6 linked regions of the Homo sapiens genome follow. The protein of the gene in region 1 purifies or fractionates together with the protein of each later gene. This does not show direct contact. Each region holds a gene or a part of one and is shown on either strand. Other genes may lie near its edges.

Region 1 (3,570 bases):
ACCTCACTTCTACAAAACAAAATTAAAAAACATTAACTGGGTGGAGACCAGCCTGAGCAACATAGGGAGACCTCACTTCTACCAAAATAAAATAAAATAAAATAAAATAAAAAGACATTAGCTGGGCTTGGTGGTCTGTGCCTGTAGTCCCAGCTACTTGTGAGGGTGAGGCAGGAGGATCGCTTGGGCTCAGGAGGTCAAGGCTGCAGTGAGCCACGATCGCACCACTGCACTCCATCCTGAGCAAGAGTGAGACTTTGTCTCTTAAGAAAAAACCAAAATAAAACTTAAAATGGACTTAAATTTAGTTTTTTAAAGAGGCTAGGGAAATAGAAGTGGGGAAAGAAAGGGAGTAAGAATTAGGGATGGAAAAGAAAAGAGAATCAGATAAAGGATTATGCAGGCTGAGAAAGACATAGTTTTACTTGGTTTTCTTGAAAGAGCATTGTCTCCCTAAGTACTCCTTATTGTATCAATTAGAGAATCTGTGCATCTCCCAGTGGGCTCTGAGACTAGGGCATGTGCAGCAGGTGCTTCTCCAGAAAGACTGGTACTGCCCATATGCCTTCCCCATGCGGCGCTGGACTGGATGAGGAGGGCTCCTAAAGGGCACACAGAGAAGGACGGTGCTGTGTGCCGTGGGCCTCTTCCATGCTCAGCCTCTCAGAAGTGGACAGTGGAGTTGTCCACAAGCTACTTAGGCCTGACATCACAGCAGACTGAATGTAGAAGCTGATAGAAGATCCAGCTGACTTGTATTAACTCTGATATTAAAGAAATGTGTGAACATGTCAAATAATGCCATTCCTCCAGTACTTTATTTTTGTTTTGGAAAACAATTATTTTTCATAAAACTGTTAACACATGACAAGCTTATTATTTTATTTTTTATTTTTATTTTTTTGAGTCAGTCTCACTCTGTCGCCCAGGCTGGAGTGCAATGGCGTGATTTCAGCTCACTGAAACTTCCATTTCCCAGGTTCAAGCGATTCTCTTGCCTCAGCCTCCCGAGTAGCTGGGGCTACAGGTGTGTTTTATCATGCCTGGCCAATTTTTGTATTTTTAGTAGAGTCAGGGTTTCACCATGTTGGCCAGGCTGGTCTTGAACTCCTGACCTCAAGTGATCCACCCACCTTGGCTTCCCAAAGTGCTGGGATTACTGGCATGAGCCACTGCGTCTGGCCTATTTTAAGAGGAATTAATACATAAATACTTAAATCCTTTTCTCAGTTTTATTTTCCAATATGGTAAATATCTACAGGTGTAACCCACATCACAAAAAAAGCTCTTTGTGATCCTAAGTCATTTTTAAGAGCATCAAGGAGTTTTTAGACCAAAAGTTTAAGGAGCACTGAGTTAATGGATAAAGATGATAGAGATGAATACTGTGGCACACCTTCTAAGGCATGTGGCATAGCTGGAGATTATTAGGTTGTTACGTCATGAGAGAAGAACGGACTGTGTAGCGAGTTAATATGGCTGTTTTTGAGGAAGAGGGAGGACTACAACCTCAAAAGGAGCAGATGCCTATGGGGTGCATGGTCTGGAAAGGCATTCTGGTCTTGCTTTGGTGCTATTACTGTGAAATATTTTCAATCCAGGGCACTTTCTGTTATACATCTCTGTAGCTCCAGAACCTGGCGCAGTCTGCCACACAGTTTGTGCAGGAATGCCGGCCACGTGAATGGATGAACGCAGAGGCTGGCCTGTTTTACGTGTGCAGTCAGCCCTGCAGGGAAACCTTGAGTGTGGTGAGAGTGTTCTGCATTGCCTGCCTGGACATGGGCATGGGAAAGACAGGTGGCAAGTTCCCATTTGCAAAAAACTAGTGATCTTTAGGTTTGATCTTTGTTTTGGGAGAAAAATTGGCATTTCCAAATAATCCACCTGTTTAAATCATTGTTAGTTACTGCAGTTTGAGCTAATGAAGGGTCACTGACTTGACTAATGATGCTGGTTTTTGTTTTTTGTTTTCTGGTTTTTGTTTTTTGTTTTCTTAATGCCCAGCTGCCCTGGAAGGATTGTGTTCAGCTTCTGTCATCTATCACTATCCTGGTGGAACTGGTGGGAAGAGTGGAGCTCGGAGGTTCCAGGGCAGCACCCTTCCTGCTGAAGCAGCCAATAGACACCGGCCAGGTGAGCTCTGCCCTTTTTCCGGCCTCTGCTCACTTGCAGTCTTTAAATAAAGCAGACTCATTTGTTACTTTTTCCTTTGAGTTAGGACTAATATTTAAATAAACTGTAAAATCTGTTGAGTCAGTAATTTTTTTTTTTTTTTGAGACAGAGTCTTGCACTGTTGCCCGGGCTGGAGTGCAGTGGCGCAATCTCGGCTCACCACAGCCTCCACCTCCCAGGTTCAAGCAATTCTCCTCCCTCAGCCTCCTGACTAGTTGGGATTACAGGCGCCCGCCACCACACATGGCTAATTTTTTGTATTTTTAATAGAGGCGGGGTTTCACTATGTTGGCCAGGCTGGTCTCGAATGCTTGACCTCGTGATCCACCCGCCTCGGCCTCCCAAAGTGCTGGGATTACAGGCGTGAGCCACCATGCCCTGCCCAGAAATCTTGTATGAGACATTTTGTTCTGATTTTATTGAATACTTTCAATCTTACTGAATACCACTAATGGGTTAGAATGATTGGTTGATTTCTGGAATACTTGTGTAAAATTTCCTGGTAGAACAGACTTGAGGTTCTGTGTCTAAGTCTTTTTTATAATTTTATGTATTAGGAGAAGCTAGTCCCAGAGGTCAATTTTAATAAGCTGATTCAGGGCCTGGGAGCAGTTTCTTATTTTATTGGCTGATGACATTCTCTCAATGAGTTGTTTGATTTGCTTATGCTTGGTAGAACCAATGAAGAGTGAGAAAACTTCTTGGGTAGAGCAGACCCACGAATGCTGAATGAACATGAACGTTTTGGTCCTTGATGAATGAACCTGCCTTTAATGGCTCAGGATTTAGTCATCATGTTGCATAGGTCACAAAGAAGGAAGCAACAAAATAATGAAAGCAGGGATTTATTGAAAACGAAAGTACACTCCACAGTGTGGGAGTGGGCCGAGCAGCGGGCTCAAGGGCACGGATACAGAATCTTCTTGGGTCTAAATACCCACTAGAAGTTTCCCATTGGCCACTTCATGCTCACCTCTTGTAAATGAAGTGGTAGCCTGCAGTTAGTCTGATTGGTTGCGGAAAGCAGCCACTCAGAGGCTAAGGTGAAGTTACAAAGTTATGCTTCTATGCAAATGAAAAGTAGACAAAGTTATACTTCTCTGCAAACTAAGACTCCACCAGCAATCAGTCTGAGTGGTTCCGGACAGCCAGTTTCCCACCTGCCATGCAGAAAAGGTCAAAGGGAGCAGCCTCTGGTCCTTTTGTTACTTAGTCATGGAAAGTTAGGGTTTTCCTTTCAATGTAGTTGTAGGAAGTCTGTGTGAAACAACCTTAAGTTCTTTGCCTCTAGATCCTATTCTTCTGCCTCAGGCTTATCTTTTTTGTGATTGAGAAAATTTTGATTTTTTTCCTGTATCTGTAATAGATGAGAAAAGTAAAAACGTTGATTTGAC
Region 2 (2,792 bases), on another chromosome or scaffold:
GGAAAGGCTTCTTTCTTAGTTTTTTGTTATCAGGGAGGAATGGTTTAGGTGGCAAATAATGAAAAAAACCAAAGTAGATACTAGTTTAAACACACAGGGAACTTTTTTTTATTGCTTAATGAAAAACTGGAGACAGCCCAGGGCTGGTGCAGCCAGTGTGGTATCAACATACCAGGCACCTTTTGCCTTCCTGTGTTGCTATCCTTAGCCCATTGGTTTCCTACCTTATGGCCACAAGATAGCTGCTGCAGCTCCAGATCTACCAGCTACCTTCAAGGCAGCAGAAAAGGAGAAAAAAATGGAGTCTGACCCTTTTAAAAATGTGAATAAAATATTTCCCAGGACCTCTCACCACTATACTTCAAAAGACTTCATTGACTAGAACTTTGTCAGATGGCCGCTGGTTGCTGTTCTCCTGATTGTAGGTCTCACGAGATCTGATGGTTTTATAAAGGGCATTTCCCCTGCACATGCTCTCTTGCCTGCCGCCATGTAAGAAGTGCCTCTGATCTTCCTTTGCCTTCCACCATGATTGTGAGGCCTCCCCAGCCATGTGGAATTGTGAGTCCATGAAACCTCTTTTTCTTTATAAATTACCCAGTCTCAGGTCTTTATTAGCAACATAAGAACGGACTAATACAATCCTCCCCCGAACTCCTTTCCATGGAAGGTGTCAAGAAACTAATTGAAATCAGAAGATATGGTCTGAATCCCCGCCCTGCCATGTTTTCAGCTGTGTGGTCTTGAACGGGCTGCTTGACTTCTCTGATTTCAGTTTTTGTCCATTGGTAAAATAGACAAAATGGCTACTCTTAATCTACCATTCTCACTGGGTTGTTGTGAGGACACAGATAATTAAGAAAAACATAATAAATATCCAAATTAGAAAATGGAAAAGGGGCCGTAACCCTACTCCTAACCTGGTCATTTTAACCTCCTGTGCCCTCAGTTTCTTCATCTGTATAATGGACATAGGCCTGGTGTGGTTGCAAGAAGCAGCTAAAAATCAGGAAAAAGAACATCATGTATTCAGCTATGCACACTTCCAACGTTGCTCTTTACTGAGGCCCTAGAGCTAACGATCTCTTCTTGTTATCCGACAGGCCACTGACACAGCAAAACACCAGTTGTGACTTTCTGCCAGCCATGAAGTCTGCAGAATTCGAGGGGCTTTACCAGGAATGAGTGACTGCTCAGAGGCCGGGCTTCTTTTCAAGTACTGCTGGATCATACTCACCCCTTGGGATTATGGCTTAGAAGAAGGGGGCTGGGTAGGCAAGCACTCCTTGGCTGTGTCCTCTCGCTTTTTCACTTACTTGTAGGATCCCGCAGCAGCCAATTTAGGGATTGTGTTGTTCTTGTGTTGGTTCCCATGTAAAGAAGCAGCAGAGAAATGCGATGGTTCAACAGCTCGCCCTGCCCCAAGTATGCAGACTTGACCTTGGCGGGGTCCTGGGCTTCTAGAGTCTAGCCCGTTGACCCCAAAGCCTCAGGGCTTATGTCCAACGGTCCCATTGGGAGCAACAGTGATTGTTTATAGTTTTTTGTTTTCAGAAATGAGGGCAGCTGTTAATTTTTTCACTCATGTGAAACAAAATGAAAAAAAAAATCCAAAACAGAACAAGCCCTTCTGTGGTATTTGCTTTTTATCAGAAAGAACAGCAACATTTGGCCTCTCCAAGTTGGAAAATAGAGTCCAAATGTAACTTTGTGGCCAAGAGTATTTTCAAAAAAGTCTAAAGGTGTAGTTTCCACTGTAACTGTTGAGTACTGTTAAGTACTGTTAATCTTTTACATATTTGCACTTGGTACTGTTGTATTGTTCTAAAGAGCTTGTCCTTTAAGTAATTTCTTTCTTTTTTTTTTTTTTTTTTTTTTGTGACGGAGTTTCCCTCTTGTTGCCCAGGCTGGAGTGCAATGGTGCAGTCTCGGCTCACTGCAACCTCCAACTCCCAGGTTCAAGTGAGTCTCGTGCCTCAGCCTCCCAAGTAGCTGGGATTACAGGCACCCGCCACCGTGCCCGGCTAGTTTTTTTTTGTATTTTTTTTAGTACAGATGGGGTTTCACCATGTTGGTCAGGCTAGTCTCAAACTCCTGACCTCAGGTGCTCCACCTGCCTTGGCCTCCCAAAGTGCTGGGATTACAGGCGTGAGCCACTGTGCCCAGCCTAAGCCATTTCTTAAAATAAAAATGCTAAAGGACTAGTAAGTAAAAATAAAACTTCCTATGGGATTTCCCAGTGGAATTACTGAGTGGTTTATTTGCGTGGCATTTCATTAAATATTTATTTGGGTGGGCTTTTTTTCTTTACTCTTTTTCCCTTCTGCTCCATACATCAGACCTGCCTATTCCTCTGTCGATTTCATGACTGGTGCTGGGTAATAGGGATTTTTTTAGTTGCTCGCAATAGACACCCAATTCCACATTACTTTAAAAAGAGGGGTGGTAGGGAGAAGGATTAGTTTCACTCAACCAAAAAGCCAAGGGGTAGATCTTGAGGTGCTGCTGATTCCAGGGGCTCAGGTGGTGTCATTAAGCATCTCTCACCCCTCATCTCTCAGTATAGCTTTCCTCAGTGTGAGCTGCTTTTGCAGGCAGGCCCGCCACCCCTTTCGGAGGTCCCAGGAGCTCCATCCTGGGCAAGAAAACTGCTTTTTTCCAACAGTATATACAAATATTCTGGGTTTGGCTCTGATTGGATAGACTTGGGTCATGTGAGCGACCCCAGACCAATCATGGTGGCTAGGAGGATGGGATATGCAGATGGGACAGGGCTGGGATGGTGGCCATTC
Region 3 (3,570 bases), on another chromosome or scaffold:
TGATTTTCAATGACTCTCTTTGCAAGCTATCCTACTGGGCTTTATTTTCTAAGTCATTTCATTTTCTTTTTCTTTTTCTCTTTTTCTCTTTTTTCTTTTTTTTTTTTTTTTTTTTTTTGAGACGGAGTCTCCCTCTGTTGCCTAGGCTGGAGTGCAGTGGCGCAATCTCAGCTCACTGCAAGCTCCACCTCCTGGGTTCACGCCAGTCTCCTGCCTCAGCCTCCCAAGCAGCTGGGACTACAGGCGTCTGCCACCACACCTGGCTAATTTTTTGTATTTTTAGTAGAGAAGCGGTTTCACCGTGTTAGCCAGGATGGTCTCGATCTCCTAACCTGGTGATCTGCCCGCCTCGGCCTCCCAAAGTGCTGGGACTACAGGCGTGAGCCACTTCGCCCAGCTCATTTTCTTTTAAGAAAAATAAAAGTTTAAAATAACCTCTTACAGCAGATTTCACCTTTTAGTGAATGTAAGAATCAACAAGTTTGATGAAAATGCATATTCCCAAACCTCAACACAATAATTTGATTTCAGCAGATCTGGAGTAGAGTGCAAGGATCTATACTTAATAAGAATGCACTAAAGCCCAATTTCCTCCTGAGAATTCCACTAAAAGCTGCTCTTCAGAAATATCCTATGGAAGGCCAAACAGCTAAATGACTACATCATAATCTCTGGCATCCCTGCACCTGAAAATAAGTGACCACATGATTGGTCCCCCTACACACACAGTATGGATTTGTTGCTGGGAAGTGGTTGTCCATCCAGGGATTACATTACCCAGCCCACCATACATCTAGGTATTGGCATGAAAGGTTCACACCAATAGAATGTGAGCAAAAGTGATGTGTATCATATCTAAGCCAAGGTTTTTTAGAAGAAGCTGTACCTTCTCTAAGCTGTCTTTCCCTTTTGTCTCATTGGTTAGATACAAATAACAATAAAACCCTAAGAAATTACAAAGGCCCCAAACAGAAGAGAAACAGATCTCTGAATTATTTCACAGAGAACTGCCTACCAACTATGAACATCTGCTTCAGAGTGTTAAATGAATAAAAATGAACTTCTATTAGGTAAAGTCACGAAAATTTGGGGGTTACTTATAAGCATCACCCTAATATATCAGGCATGTGTGTATACAAACACTTGTATAACCGCATATACATGTATATATTCATTTAATCAACAAAATGTATTGAAAACCCATTATATGCTCAAGATATAATCATGAGCACAAACATATGCAATCCTTATCCTCATGAATCTCAGAAGTACTGAAGCATGTGTGTATAAATGCAGGTTTTTCTATGTGGATTACTTGAATGGGGTAGACAATGAAGTAATATAAATGAGTAAGTAGAACTTTCACTTCCAATTAAGATAGAGGAACAGGGATTAGATTTACCACCCATCTGACACAACTAAAACTCTGAAAAAATATATGGATCAACAATTTGAAGCATTTGATATTAGGCAATAAAAGACAGTGATCCCCTAGAAATGAAAAACAAAATGTGCACCCCAGATCTGCCCCAGCTTATTATCTGAAGAGATGAAATAATTAGAAACAAAACATTTATTAAACTGCATCCCAACATATTAAGCAGAGCAAGCAAAGTATAAAAAAGATCCAAATCAAACTTTCAGAGATGAAAACTACAATGTCTAGTTTAAAAACATACTGTATGGGATTAACAGATTAGATATTTCAGAAGAAAAGAGTAGTGACTTTGAAGACATAGCAATAGAAACTACCCACAATGAAACACAGTGAGGAAAAAAAGATTTTTAAATGAAAGACTGTAACACCAGCAAGCTGTGAGATAAGTTTAAGCAGTCTAATGTACATGTAATAGGAATCCAGAGGAAAGGAGAGAGAGAGGAAGAATGGAAAACTTTTTGAAGATATAAAGGCCAAAATTTCCCAAATTTTATGAAAACTAACAACCTACAGCTTCAAGAAGCTCAATAAATCCCAAACATAAGAAAGCTGAAGAAACTACACCAAAGCAAATCACAATCACATTGCTTATGCCAGTGAGAGAGGACTCTCATAAGCAGCCAGAGAGAAAAGACCTAATACGCAGAGGAACAAAGGTAAGGGTAACAGCAGACTTCTTGTGAGAAACAATGTACATGCTTGAAAACACTGAAGCAACATCTTTACAGTAACAAAAAAAAAAAAATTATCAATCTTAAATTCTTTACTCAGTGAAAATATCTTTCAAAAACCAAAAATGAACACAGACATACAAAAGCTAAAAGAATTTATCACCATCAAACATGCACAACAAAAATGTAAAAGGATGTCCTTCAAGCCAAAGGAAAAATGATACGAGTTGGAAATCTGGATCCACATGAAGAAATGAATACCAAAGGAATGAACACACAGAGCAAGTCCCCAAACGGATCCTGAGCAAGAGGAGAGTTGGAGGCTCTCCCTCTCCCTCTCCCTCTCCCCACAGTCTCCCTCTCCCTCTCCCCACGGTCTCCCTCGCCCTCTCTTTCCACGGTCTCCCTCTGATGCCGAGCCAAAGCTGGACTGTACTGCTGCCATCTTGGCTCACTGCAACCTCCCTGCCTGATTCTCCTGCCTCAGCCTGCCGAGTGCCTGCTATTGCAGGCGCACGCCGCCACGCCTGACTGGTTTTCGTATTTTTTTGGTGGAGACGGGGTTTCGCTGTGTTGGCCGGGCTGGTCTCCAGCTCCTAACCGTGAGTGATCCGCCAGCCTCGGCCTCCCGAGGTGCCGGGATTGCAGACGGAGTCTCATTCACTCAGGGCTCAATGTTGCCCAGGCTGGAGTGCAGTGGCATGATCTCGGCTAGCTACAACCTCCACCTCCCAGCCGCCTGCCTTGGCCTCCCAAAGTGACGAGATTGCAGCCTCTGCCCGGCCGCCACCCCGTCTGGGAAGTGAGGAGCGTCTCTGCCCGGCCACCCATCGTCTGAGATGTGGGGAGCGCCTCTGTCCAGCCGCGACCCCGTCTGGGAGGTGAGGAGCGTCTCTGCCCGGCAGCCCCGTCTGAGAAGTGAGGAGCCCCTCCGCCCGGCAGCCGCCCCGTCCGGGAGGGAGGTGGGAGGTCAGCCCCCGCCCGGCCAGCCGCCCCATCCGGGAGGGAGGTGGGGGGTCAGCCCCCGCCCGGCAGCCGCCCCGTCCGGGAGGGAGGTGGGGGGTCAGCCCCTGCCCGGCCAGCCGCCCCGTCCGGGAGGTGGGGGTTCAGCCCCCGCCCAGCCAGCCGCCCCGTCCAGGAGGGAGGTGGGGGGCGCCTCCGCCCGGCCGCCGCCCCGTCCGGGAGGTCGGAGGCGCCTCTGCCCGGCCGCCCCTTCTGGGAAGTGAGGAGCTCCTCTGCCCGGCCACCACCCCGTCTGGGAGGTGTACCCAACAGCTCATTGAGAACGGGCCATGATGACGATGGCGGTTTTGTGGAATAGAAAAGGGGGAAAGGTGGGGAAAAGATAGAGAAATCAGATTGTTGCTGTGTCTGTGTAGAAAGAAGTAGACATAGGAGACTTCATTTTGTTCTGTACTAAGAAAAATTCTTCTGCCTTGGGATGCTGTTGATCTATGACCT
Region 4 (3,639 bases), on another chromosome or scaffold:
AAAAAAAAAAAAAAAGCTAAGAAATGTGTGTACACATAAAATCTTGTGTATGACTGTTCATAGCAGCATTATTTATAATGGCCAAAGAGTGGGAACAACCTAGATAGCCATCGACTGATGAATAGATGAATAAAATGTGATATATTCATGCAATAGAATATTATTCAGCTATAAAAAGAAATGATACATACTACAACATGGGTGAACCTTGAAAATATTATGCTAAGTGTGAGGAGACAGTCACAAAAGACCACGAATTATATGATTTCATTTATATGAAATGTCCAGAATAGGCAAATCTATAGAGATAGAAGGTACATTAGTGGTTGACTAGGTCCCCAGAGGGTAGGGTACGAGGAGTGACTGCTAATGATATGGGATTTCTTTTCAGGGTGATGAAATATTTTAAAACTTAGATCGTGATGAAGGTTACAGAGTTCTGTGTATATACTAAAAACCACCTATTAAAAAAAAAAGAATGGCCAAGCGCGGTGGCTCTCGCCTGTAATCCCAGCACTTTGGGAGGCTGAGGCGGGTGGATCACTTGAGGTCAGGAGTTCGAGACCAGCCTGGTCAACATGGTGACAACCCCGTCACTACTAAAAATACAAAAATTAGCCAGGCATAATGGCGGATGCCTGTAATCCCAGCTACTTGGGAGGCCGAGGCAGGAGAATTGCTTGAACCTGGGAGGTGGAAGTTGCAGTGAGCCAAGATCATGCCCTTGCACTTCAGCCTAGGTGACATGGTGAGACTCTATCACACACAAAAAATACATAAATAAATAAATAATTAAAATTAAAAAATTTTTAAAAAGAAAAAGATATTTAAAAATAGCTACTTAAATGTCTGTGATGAGACAGGTTAAGTGCCAATTGAGTGGTACACACAGGCCAAGAAGGAGGCGTGCATGACCGTGTGGTAGTTCACAGGCCTTTGGAAGTGCCTGTGGGCTGAGCTCCTCAGGCATTTTGTTTCCAGAGATGCCTGCCATGAAAATGCATGCTTTATTTAACAAATTAGATTTAAAGCATCATCTAGATGTAATCTGTCTTAAAATTTTGTGAGGTTTAAGAAGTGAGTAATATAGTGGGTCTATGGTTTTCTGACCCACTGGAACTACCTATAAACCAAAAAAACGTTAGTGTCTGCTAGCATGCAACATGAATTCTGGACTAAATAGAGGATATTCTTTTATGATTGTACTAACGTATGACTTACCCTCTCTGAATCTGTTTTAATATCAATAAAGTGAGAGGACTGACTATGCAGCCATTCACTCATTTAGTGGATCTTTTAAATGAAAGACTACACATCAGGATTAAATGATCTCTTCCTTAATTTCCCAGACTCCTTGGAACCTAAAATTCTAGATAAGGATATTTTGAGTATTGAGATCTGCAAAAGCAGATTATCTCAAAACCACAAATTATTCTCTCTTAAACTTCACACAGGTGAGCTGGTCGCGATTAAATACTGAAAATGTGTTTTTTCTTAATAGGGAGAAGTAGAAGCCAAGGTTGAAGAATTAAAATTTGATCGTTACTCTGTATTTAGGCCTGGGTAAGTATAATATTTATACTGAATGAGAGTATGCCACTGATGGTTAATCCCTAGATACTAATTTTTCATTTGGAAAGGCTGACAGCTGAAATATCTAAGATATGAAAGACATTGGCTAGAGGTAGATTGCTTCTCTGAAGGACACACCTTTTTGCTTAGAAAGAAAGGGTAGATGGTGGGGCCTGCTTCAGAATAGTCTGGAACTTCCTGGACAGCATTTGCTGCCTTCTTAAATCCTCTTCATGTGCCAAATAAAACCTTACGTCTACTGTATTAGTCTGCTTGGGTTGCCATAACAGAATACCACACAGATTGGGTGTCTTAAACAACAGAAATTTTTTTTCACGCAGTCTGGAGATTGGAAGTCCAAGATCAAGGTGCCCTCAGGGTTGGTGTCCGGTGAGGCCTCTTTTCCTGGCTGGCAGACAGACCACCTTCTGGCAGTGTCCTCACATGGCCTTTCTTCTTAGTGTATGCAGACAGAGAGAGACCTCTGATGTCTCTTCCTCTTATGAGGACCCCAGTCCCATCACACTAGTCCTATTCCATCCTTAAGACCTCATTAAACTTAATTACTTCCCTTAATGCCTTATCTTCAAATATAGACACCTTGGGGATTAGGGCTTCAACATTAGAATATTGAGGGGATACAGTTTTGTCCGTAATGCCCACTGTGGTCTCAGTGCAATTTACCACCTCTTCCTCTGCTTTTCTTTCTTTTTTTTTTTTTTTTATTTTAGAGTTCTGTTATGTGATAGGCAAGAATCTCGCCCAGGTGAATGGCTGGTTAGAAAGTTCTTTGGCTCCTTACCAGACTCTTGGGCCAGTGGGCATTCTGTGCCTGTGGTGACCGTGGTTAGAGCAATGCTGAACAATGTGGTGAGACCAAGAGACAAGCAGATGGAACTGCTGGAGAACAAGGCCATCCATGACCTGGGGAAAGCGCATGGCTCTCTCAAGCCATGACCACATTGGAGAAATGGTTTTTATTGTCAACCTTAACACCCATCACCAAATCGGTAATTTCAGGGTCTAAAAAAAGTCAGCATGTTTTAACTTTGTTGTTTTACTATCCTCAGGCATCCATTCCAATCAAGAAATGATGGTGCTCTGCATCAGTGGTTCAGAGCCTGGTTATACATATAGATCACTCAGGGAGCTTTGGAAAAATAAAGATTTGTCAGCCCTATCTCAAACTTGAATCAAAATTTCTGGGGTGTGGGCACAATAATCTGTAATTTTCTTTGTTTATACTTCCCCTGATGCCACTGGTTCCGATGCCACTGGCTGGGGGGCCTGCTTTGAAATGCTTGTCTGCAGAGTCACAGCAGCCATGAAAACCTTATGACCGTGCAAATGAGCTCTGCTCTAAAATTGTTGACATTCATGTCTCTGAGTTACAAAAGTGCTAATTCACTACATGTAATTGTGTAAGTAAACATTGTGCCTTTACTACTTCTTTATGTAATAGAAGTTATATACCTAAGCTTATATAATACATGGGGAGGATTAAATAAAGGAATAAAGATGAATGGACAACTCCTGGGTGCCTCTTAGATTGCTTGAAAATGCCCATGTAGTGTGATATGCAGCATTTCAGCCTATGGGGTGATATAATAGCAGCTAATATTTACCAAATGCTTGCTAAGTACCAGTCTTTACATGTGTTATCTGTGCTTTAACCCTCTTATAAACAATCCTTATAAAGTGATACTATCATGATCTTCATGTCTTAGATGGGGAAATGAGGCTCACTGTGGTTAAGTGCCTTGCTCAAGAGTCCAAATCTGAAGAACTGAAGCAAAGAAATGGCAGAGTCAGGATTCTAACCCAGGTCTGCCTGATCCCATAGATCCCATATATCGTGTTTTTAAGCACCCTGCAAAAGCATTCTGTTCCCGTATATTTCCAGGTAGTTCCAGTTGATTGTTACTACATGTTGTGGATGAACAAAATCGAAATATTTGGGTTTCTCCTTTGTTCTAGTGATTAATTACTAAATGTTCACATAGCCAGTAAAATTCTATGCCACCAAACTTTAAAGTGCTCATGCTGCTGCACTTTAAAAATTAAGGC
Region 5 (3,570 bases), on another chromosome or scaffold:
TGGTGAGGTCAGCCAGCCACACCTCCAGCCTATGTGCTTGGGACCAGCAGGAGAGAGAGTTAGTCTTTCACTGTGGCCAGAGGCCCAGACCACACTGGTGGATGAAGCTCGGCCCCCATGGGAGGGCCGGCAGCCTGGTTCTCCTCGGTCAGGGCATAGGCAATTGCAAGAGTCCTCTGTCCTGTCCTGTGCTGTCACCTCTTGCCCTTGGCCTGCAGTGAGCAGCCCCCAGCCCAGCCTGAGTGACTATGGCCATCCTGTCCTACCTGAGGACTTGGGCCATGATGATTAAGGTGGGGACACATATCCATCACTCCATCAACAGTGTCTGTGCCAGACAGGGCTCTCAATACCCTTGTTCGGGGAAGTCTTCTTGGCAAGGGTCCACAGGCCTCCAGTTTAAGCTGTGGGACCCAGAGCCCAGGCAGGCTTCGTGAGTGTCTCAGCCAAACATGGCTGTGGATTGAACATGATTCACCCAGCACCAGGTCAGGACTGCTCTTAGAGCTCTTGATTCTTAGAGCACCTCCTGCAGGATTTCAGCTCCTATCCCTCAGGTGCAGAAGCAGGTTCAGAAAATTTCAGTAGCATTCTCAGGGGCTCATGTGTACCCCAGGTCAGAGGCTGACATGGACCCCAGGCTTGCCCCATCTGGCCTGTTCTCTCTGCCACAGCTCCCCCTGCCCAGGCCCTGCCTTCTGGAAAGGGGGTTTCTGGGCCTGCGCAGAGTCTGAGAAGCCAGTTCGGGCCAGAATTGGGTCAGATTTCCCTACTGCAGCCAAAGAGGAGCCTCCGAGTCTCCCTGGGCCCAGCAGCGCTTTATCTTGAAGCAGATGCGCCGATTCCAACACTCACACTCCGCACCCACCTGCCCTTCCCCTGCAGCGGGGAAGCTTTGGGCCTGGGCTTGAAGACCTGGCCACCTGTCCCAGCACTGTCACTGACCAGCTGCGTGACCCCTGACAAGTCCCTTCACTCTGTGAGCCTCCGTCCCCTCATCTGTAGAATGGGACAATACCACGAGTGCTGTTGAGAGAGTTTTATGTTTGTTTGTTTGTTTTGAGACAGAGTTTCGCTCTGTCACCCAGGCTGGAGTGCAGTGGCACAATCTTGGCCCGGCTAATTTTTGTATTTTTAGCAGAGATGGGGTTTCACCATGTTGACCAGGCTGGTCTCGAACTCTTGACCTCAGGTGATCCACCTGCCTCAGCCTCCCAAAGTGCTGGGATTACAGGCGTGAGCCACTGCACCCAGCTGCTGTTGAGAGAATTTTAAAGGAGACAGCGTGGTCAGAGACCTGTGGAAGAGTCTGGCAGAGTGAGTCCCCAGGGCACAGACCCCAGCCCAGGGCTCCGCCATAGCTCTCAGGCTGCGGGGAACCCTTGCCAACAAGACTTCCCCAAACAGGAGTATTAGGAGAGAGCCCTGTCTGGCATAGACACTGTTGATGGAGTGATGGATATGTGTCCCCACCTTAATCCTCAAGACCCACATCCCTGCCAGGCAGGACCCAGCTTGAGGAGCCTTGAGGCCACACTCTGGGCCGGTTCCAGAGCAGAGGGCAGGTGGGGCTGGGCAGCTGGACCGGGCTGTGTGAAGGGACTCATTGCTGGAAGTGGGCTCCTTGCAGGAGTCTCTGGGGGCCCATTTTCTGTGTGTTAACCAAGGGAGAAACTGAGGCTCAGGGGCTGCTTGGTGACCTTCCCAAGGTCCTGAGGACAGGGAGGGGAGACTGGTCCACAGACTTGCCTCTCACTCCTCCCTCTGCCTCAGCCGTCCTGAGTCCCACTTTCTCCTTGGCCTTGCCTTCCCCCTCTGGTGCAGCCTCCCTGAGCCCCTCCCCCCAACTTCCCTCACTGATATCAGTGGCCCGCCCAGCCCCCCATCCCCAGCCCTGGTTGCTGCGGCTCAGAAGCTGCTGGCTCAGGAGCCTCCAGCTTTTGCTGAGTGAGCGAGTCCAGAGGTGCTGTCTTGGCACAAAACACCGCTGGCCGGGCCCTCGCCCTCCCTTCCCTCTCCAGGGTCCACTTTGGAGTGGAGAGTGTGGGTGGGGGCGGAATGAGGCCTCACACCACCTCCAGGGTCTTCAGCTTCAGGGAAGGGAGGGTCCTGAGGCCCAGAGAAGGGGGTGTTTGCCTGAGGTCACAAGGCAGGCCAGGGGAGAGCTGGGACTGCTCCCCACCAAGTCCAGGGGGACAGGAAGTGGGTCTGTCTTGTCCAAGCTGTTTGCAGAATCTTCCTGCCTCAGCCCTGCCTGCCCTGGCCTCATCCTTCCTCTCTGGTCCACCCTGAAAGGGGCAGAATTCGCATTAACTGTATCAGTGAAGGCAGCTCCTGCTTGAGTGCATCCGAGGTGTCAAGGTTTTACCCACACCTCCTCTGATCATTCAGTGACCTTTGAGGTAGGGCCATTGGAATAGGCTTCACTTAATACAAGTGGGACTCAACCCTGATGCATTTACAGTCACCTGTTAGACAAAGACGCTGACCACCTACTGTGTGCTGAGCACCTACTGCATGTGCCAAACACAGCCCTCAGCCCTGGGCTGGAAGGGGTGGTTGACAAAGAGTAATAAGCCTCTTGCCCCAAGAGACTTTGTGCTTGGACATTTGCCCTTGTAACAACACTGATGATAGCTGGTAGGGTCCCAGTTTTCAGATGGAAAGGCTGAGGCTCAAGTGGCAGGCACATTGCCCCGGGGCGGTTTCTGGACTCAGCTCTCCAGGCCTCAGGACCCCACCCTGAACCTGCTGATACCCTTGTTTGTCTCCAGCCCACCCCAGCCAGACCAGGGCCTCCCGCCGCCCCTTGCAGCTGTCCCGGTCCCCTGGAAGAGCACGGACCCCTGCCAAGGCCACAGGGAGTCCCCAGGAGCCCTGGTGGAGACCTCTGCAGGGGAGGAGGCCCAAGGCCAGGAGGGCCCCGCAGCCGCCCAGCTGGACGTGTTGCGCCTGCGCAGCTCTTCCATGGAGATCCGAGAGAAGGGCTCCGAGTTCCTGAAGGAGGAGCTGCACAGAGCGCAGAAGGTGGGTGCCTGCAGTAGGCTGGGGGGTCTTCGGTGGGGAGAAGTCAGGTTGGGAGAGCTGTGGGCTCTCATCAGGTGCCCAGAGATGTGCCCAAGGGAGAGGGATGTGCCCTCACCGAGGCCAGCTGCTGGCCAGGCCTGTACTGGGCGCACCGATGGTCACCCGTCTTGACTGCAAACGTGCCCTGAGCTCTGATGAACTGGCAGGCAGGGCTTCAGCTTCATGCTGTGGCTAAACGGAAAAAGCATCACAAACTGTCAGGCACCAGAGGAAATAAACTCTGAGCCCCACATAAAATGACGAGGGGATGGAACCTGGTCCGGTGGGCCTGGTCCCTCCCGTGCCAGGCCTGGGGATGCTGAGGTGCTCAAGTGCCTGCCTCTTTTCCTCCAGGAGCTGAAGCTAAAGGACGAGGAATGTGAGCGGCTGTCCAAGGTGCGGGAGCAGCTAGAACAGGAGCTGGAAGAGCTGACGGCCAGCCTGTTTGAGGTACACCGGCTGGGCGCGGGAACAACTTGGGGAATGGGTCATCTGGGCGTCCGT
Region 6 (3,900 bases), on another chromosome or scaffold:
TCTGAAGTCATTCTTTCCATGTCCTCAAAATCACACAAGAGAATTTTATCAATGTTAATTTCCTGATTTTCATAAGTGTACTGTGGTAATTTAAGATGTTACATTAGGGAATTGGGGTGAAGGGTTATAACACATTTAAAAACCCACATTTTACCTCAATTTATCCACAATGAAATTTTGCTGTTACCTCAAGTTTACTTAGTAAACAACTTTTTTAAAGGACGGAATTATTTTAACTCTTTCTGTTTTCTATATATAGACTGCCCCTGACTTGATGGTTTGACAGGATTTTTCAGCTTTACCACAGTGTGAAAGTGATATAAATTTAGTACATTTAACTAACCATGGGGTTATGTCCTGATAAACCCATCGTAAGTTGAAAATATCATAAGCTGAAAGTTTCAATTCCAATTTCTATCCTGAAACTTCTAGAGGCAGTTAAAACTTTAACTATAGGCAGCATGTTTATTCTAATGATTTTTTTTAACCTACCTTAAGGTTATTATGAGAACTAAACAAGATGATGCAAGTAAAGTACTTATAACATTGCTTGACAATAAACAGTCTCTCTGAGGTAGATACTATTTATTATTTCTCATTTTACAGGTGAGAAATTTGAGGCTTGGAGATGAAAAATAACTGGCTTAAAGATACATAGGTAGGAAGTGGCAGTACAAGACTTTGAACCATGTCTGACCACAATGCAATACAGTTTGTCTTCTGTTCTAAAGCATTCTTATTAATGTCAACCCATTCTTAAATCCTTCATTACACAAAAAAAATCAAGTTTTTCTCTTTCCCTCTCAATGGCATTTACCATTTGTCTTGAATTTTGGATCTAATGTCATCAACAACAAAAAATGCAAGCAAGAACCAGTTACTCAATTGCAAAACCAACATTCTGGATGCAGTACAAAAGTTAGTTAACTTAATCACTGATACTCACATCACAAATTGCTTACTTTATTTCTTTAACAATGAAATAGTAATAACACAATAATTCAGTTGTAACAAAGCCACCAACAGAGCAAAACAAAAACAAAGCTAATTAAGAAGCATTGCTTCAGCTCAAATTAGTTATCTCCTTTAAACAGGAAAAACGACCATTAGTCTACTGGTTCTCAACCCTGTCTGCACATGAGAGGAATGGAGGGAAACAGGACAGGTGTTTAAAAAAATAGTTATATCCAAGACCCACCTCAGAACTATTAAATGAGAATCTCTCAAGAGTGAGGCCCAGGCAAAGATTTTTAAAGTGCTGTCAGTGTTGAAAACTACAGGTCTAAAGTAATAAGGAATAAAACCATGCCTCGAAGCAATTCAAAACCAAGAAGCTGATTATACAATAAATTTTTTCCTCTAATCCTGGGAAAACAGGGGGAAGCAGGCACCGATTCAGTTTTCATTTTTCTTTATCCATCTTCAGTTGCCCATAGTAGAGCTTAACCAACATCAAATATTGGAAGCTTTGCAAACACGCTACCCAAATTGAAATTATCACTACTTTACATTTAGAAAGCTCTTTTAAAACAATAGCTTTTACAACAATCCCGCCCATCTTAAGTTTGCATAGATGTTCAAGTCAGCTATTTGTTCAACTAACAGAGTCAATAGAATGTATTAGAAAGTACTTTATTAACAAGTTATTATAAAACAATATTCATTTTATATACCACAAATAAACTTTTTGGTGCAGATAGGAGGAATATTTGAGTTTTTCCCACCTATTTCTAAAACTGCTAGAATTTCTTTTTATAAGATCAGTACCTTCAATTCTAGAATTTAAACAAAACTTTTTGCTCTAAGAATGCATACATAAAATACTTCCCCTACAACTGTACTCTATCCTTGACAAATCCTTATTAAGAGGTTCAGTAGTAACTGTAGGTATTTAATGTCAGAACAATCTTTCTTCATTTCTCAGGTTTGGAAATATAACTTCAAGTATGGAAAATAACTTTTCCCTTAAGAATACGAGAATTCACTTAGAGACATCTCCTCAAATCAGCCAATCCCACTGCTTCGGCTCCTTACATCAGGACTCCATGTCAACCTCAGCCCCTTCATTCCTGCCCTGAAGTGTTGCTTCTGTCAGGGTGTCTTCACTTAAATCTTCAATGTCTGCCAGATCAATAGGAGGCAAAGGATTCCTCCAGTACTGGAAGGTATTATACTGCCAAAATTCTTCATTGTGCTTTAGAGAAAAAAGAGAGATCAAAGAGCATCAATAGCTTAGAAAAAATTAAGTTTTTTTCAGAAAACAAATTTGTTTTAAAGGCAAACTCATATAAGATTTTGTAATCTTCTATTTTGTATTTTTAACAAATATACATTTTAAATTTTGTCTCATCTAAGTACTTCATGTACTCGATGAAATCTGTGCATTTTAATATTTACAATTTGTGAAAGTATTTGTTAAATTTAAAGGAATTTCCTCCAAGAGCATCTCTTTCCACAGTTTTTCTCCCATTTTTCACCTAAAGAAAATTATCTAAAAAGTCTTAAAATTTTTTATCTTTCAAGAAGGAAAAGAAGAATTTATTTTAAAAATACAAACACAGACACACTCCTTATAACTTACTTTTGGTCTTGTTCTTAAGGTCTGGTATTTTAGGAGATTTACTTTACATAGGCCAAAATATTTTGAAATCTTCCAAAAAGTATTAGGTTATAAACATGACGAATAGCAAGAAAATGTTAAACTGATCATTTTATTAAAGATAAAAAAAAAATCAATGCTCAGTAGCCACATGACCTAGTGGCTACTGTGCTGGACAGCACAGGTCTGTAAGAAAGTCTCATTAGGAAGTTCACTGTCTTCTATGCTGAGCCTTAAAGAATTAAGTTTTGGGGGAATTTCTTAATATTGGGATAAACACACAATAAGTCAAAAGATATTAAGAAAAATTTCACTTTAATATTTTGGAAAATCTACTGTACAAATTATCTACTTATAAACATGGACCAAAAAAAGGTCTTTTAATTATGTTAGTAAAACATAGTGACTAAGGGCACACAAACTTTGCCACCAGACAGACCTGGGTTTGCAAGATAACTCCACCGCCCACTAACTCTGATCTTGACCTTATTGATAAAATGGAGGACTGTTGTAAAAATTCAGGCTTGGCATAGTAATTGCTCAATATTGCTAGGTATTATATCCCAATAAGCCTATGAATCATTAATCACTGTCTCCTTAGAGCATTTCTGCTTACTTTCTGTTAAGAATATCTAACAGTTGGCTGGGCATGATTACACCTGTAATCCCAGCACTTTGGGAGGCAGAAGGATCGCTTGAGCCCCAGAGTTTGAGACCAGCCCTGGCAACAAAGCAAGACTCCATCTCAATTTATGAAAAACAAACAAATAAACAAGAAACTAACAGTTAACACTGACAGAGCAGTGAATCTACATAGTGACACTAACATGAAAAAAATACATGAATATTTAATGAATACCTGATTTTATTTCTGTAGTCAAAAAACATCTGAAACAGGAAATACCCTGAAGTTCCGGGACAGAAATGACGTAACATTATCCTGCCTAGATTGTATTCTCAATGTAGAAAAAAGGTATTTGAGGTAGTATTTCCTAAATGAAGTCCCAAGGGTGAGGGCTGGGACTTAAGCCCTATTCTGAGCACAAAAGAAACCAGGCATTTACTGTATTGAACTGTTTACTTCTTTTTGTTATATTCAATTTTCCCTTGGTAATCAGGTATAAAATCCTTAAAACAAAAAGCCTGTGTCTTTGGAGGCAGGAAGGAGAAACAGAAGCTGGAGAGAGCATGATTGTAAAAGAGAAGCGCCTCCAGAACAAATCTAACAAAAAGAAGGAATAGGAGTGTTACTGGGCTTTCCTCAAAAGAGGGCCTGACAGTGGCTCACGCCTGTAATCCCA

Evidence for each region.
Region 2: the proteins of TRAPPC9 (region 1) and LDAF1 purify together in Homo sapiens (co-immunoprecipitation; one large-scale study listed by IntAct). This does not show direct contact.
Region 3: the proteins of TRAPPC9 (region 1) and RAB3IP purify together in Homo sapiens (tandem affinity purification; 2 studies listed by BioGRID and IntAct, with this or other methods). This does not show direct contact.
Region 4: the proteins of TRAPPC9 (region 1) and HTATIP2 fractionate together in Homo sapiens (co-fractionation; one large-scale study listed by BioGRID). This does not show direct contact.
Region 5: the proteins of TRAPPC9 (region 1) and RAB3IL1 purify together in Homo sapiens (affinity purification with mass spectrometry, with the first as the bait; one large-scale study listed by BioGRID). This does not show direct contact.
Region 6: the proteins of TRAPPC9 (region 1) and C9orf40 purify together in Homo sapiens (co-immunoprecipitation; one large-scale study listed by IntAct). This does not show direct contact.

Annotation. Positions count from the first base shown.
Region 1 is NC_000008.11:140,433,678-140,437,247, reverse strand, and holds part of TRAPPC9 (trafficking protein particle complex subunit 9), read left to right. Parts: intron 1-2,007; coding exon 2,008-2,136; intron 2,137-3,570. UniProt on the Homo sapiens protein: Functions as an activator of NF-kappa-B through increased phosphorylation of the IKK complex. May function in neuronal cells differentiation. May play a role in vesicular transport from endoplasmic reticulum to Golgi.
Region 2 is NC_000016.10:21,178,372-21,181,163, forward strand, and holds the end of LDAF1 (lipid droplet assembly factor 1), read left to right. Parts: exon of another isoform or gene 1-425; coding exon of another isoform or gene 426-441; exon of another isoform or gene 442-561; intron 562-1,103; coding exon 1,104-1,185; 3' UTR 1,186-2,245; downstream 2,246-2,792. UniProt on the Homo sapiens protein: Plays an important role in the formation of lipid droplets (LD) which are storage organelles at the center of lipid and energy homeostasis. In association with BSCL2/seipin, defines the sites of LD formation in the endoplasmic reticulum.
Region 3 is NC_000012.12:69,759,305-69,762,874, reverse strand, and holds part of RAB3IP (rab-3A-interacting protein isoform alpha 1), read right to left. Parts: intron 1-3,570. UniProt on the Homo sapiens protein: Guanine nucleotide exchange factor (GEF) which may activate RAB8A and RAB8B. Promotes the exchange of GDP to GTP, converting inactive GDP-bound Rab proteins into their active GTP-bound form.
Region 4 is NC_000011.10:20,380,677-20,384,315, forward strand, and holds the end of HTATIP2 (protein HTATIP2), read left to right. Parts: intron 1-1,501; coding exon 1,502-1,563; intron 1,564-2,303; coding exon 2,304-2,529; 3' UTR 2,530-3,106; downstream 3,107-3,639. UniProt on the Homo sapiens protein: Represses translation by preventing reactivation of elongation factor eEF1A. May also inhibit nuclear import by competing with nuclear import substrates for binding to a subset of nuclear transport receptors.
Region 5 is NC_000011.10:61,907,511-61,911,080, reverse strand, and holds part of RAB3IL1 (guanine nucleotide exchange factor for Rab-3A), read left to right. Parts: intron 1-2,774; coding exon 2,775-3,027; intron 3,028-3,420; coding exon 3,421-3,516; intron 3,517-3,570. UniProt on the Homo sapiens protein: Guanine nucleotide exchange factor (GEF) which may activate RAB3A, a GTPase that regulates synaptic vesicle exocytosis. Promotes the exchange of GDP to GTP, converting inactive GDP-bound Rab proteins into their active GTP-bound form.
Region 6 is NC_000009.12:74,946,013-74,949,912, forward strand, and holds the end of C9orf40 (uncharacterized protein C9orf40), read right to left. Parts: intron 2,195-3,900; coding exon 2,036-2,194; 3' UTR 571-2,035; downstream 1-570.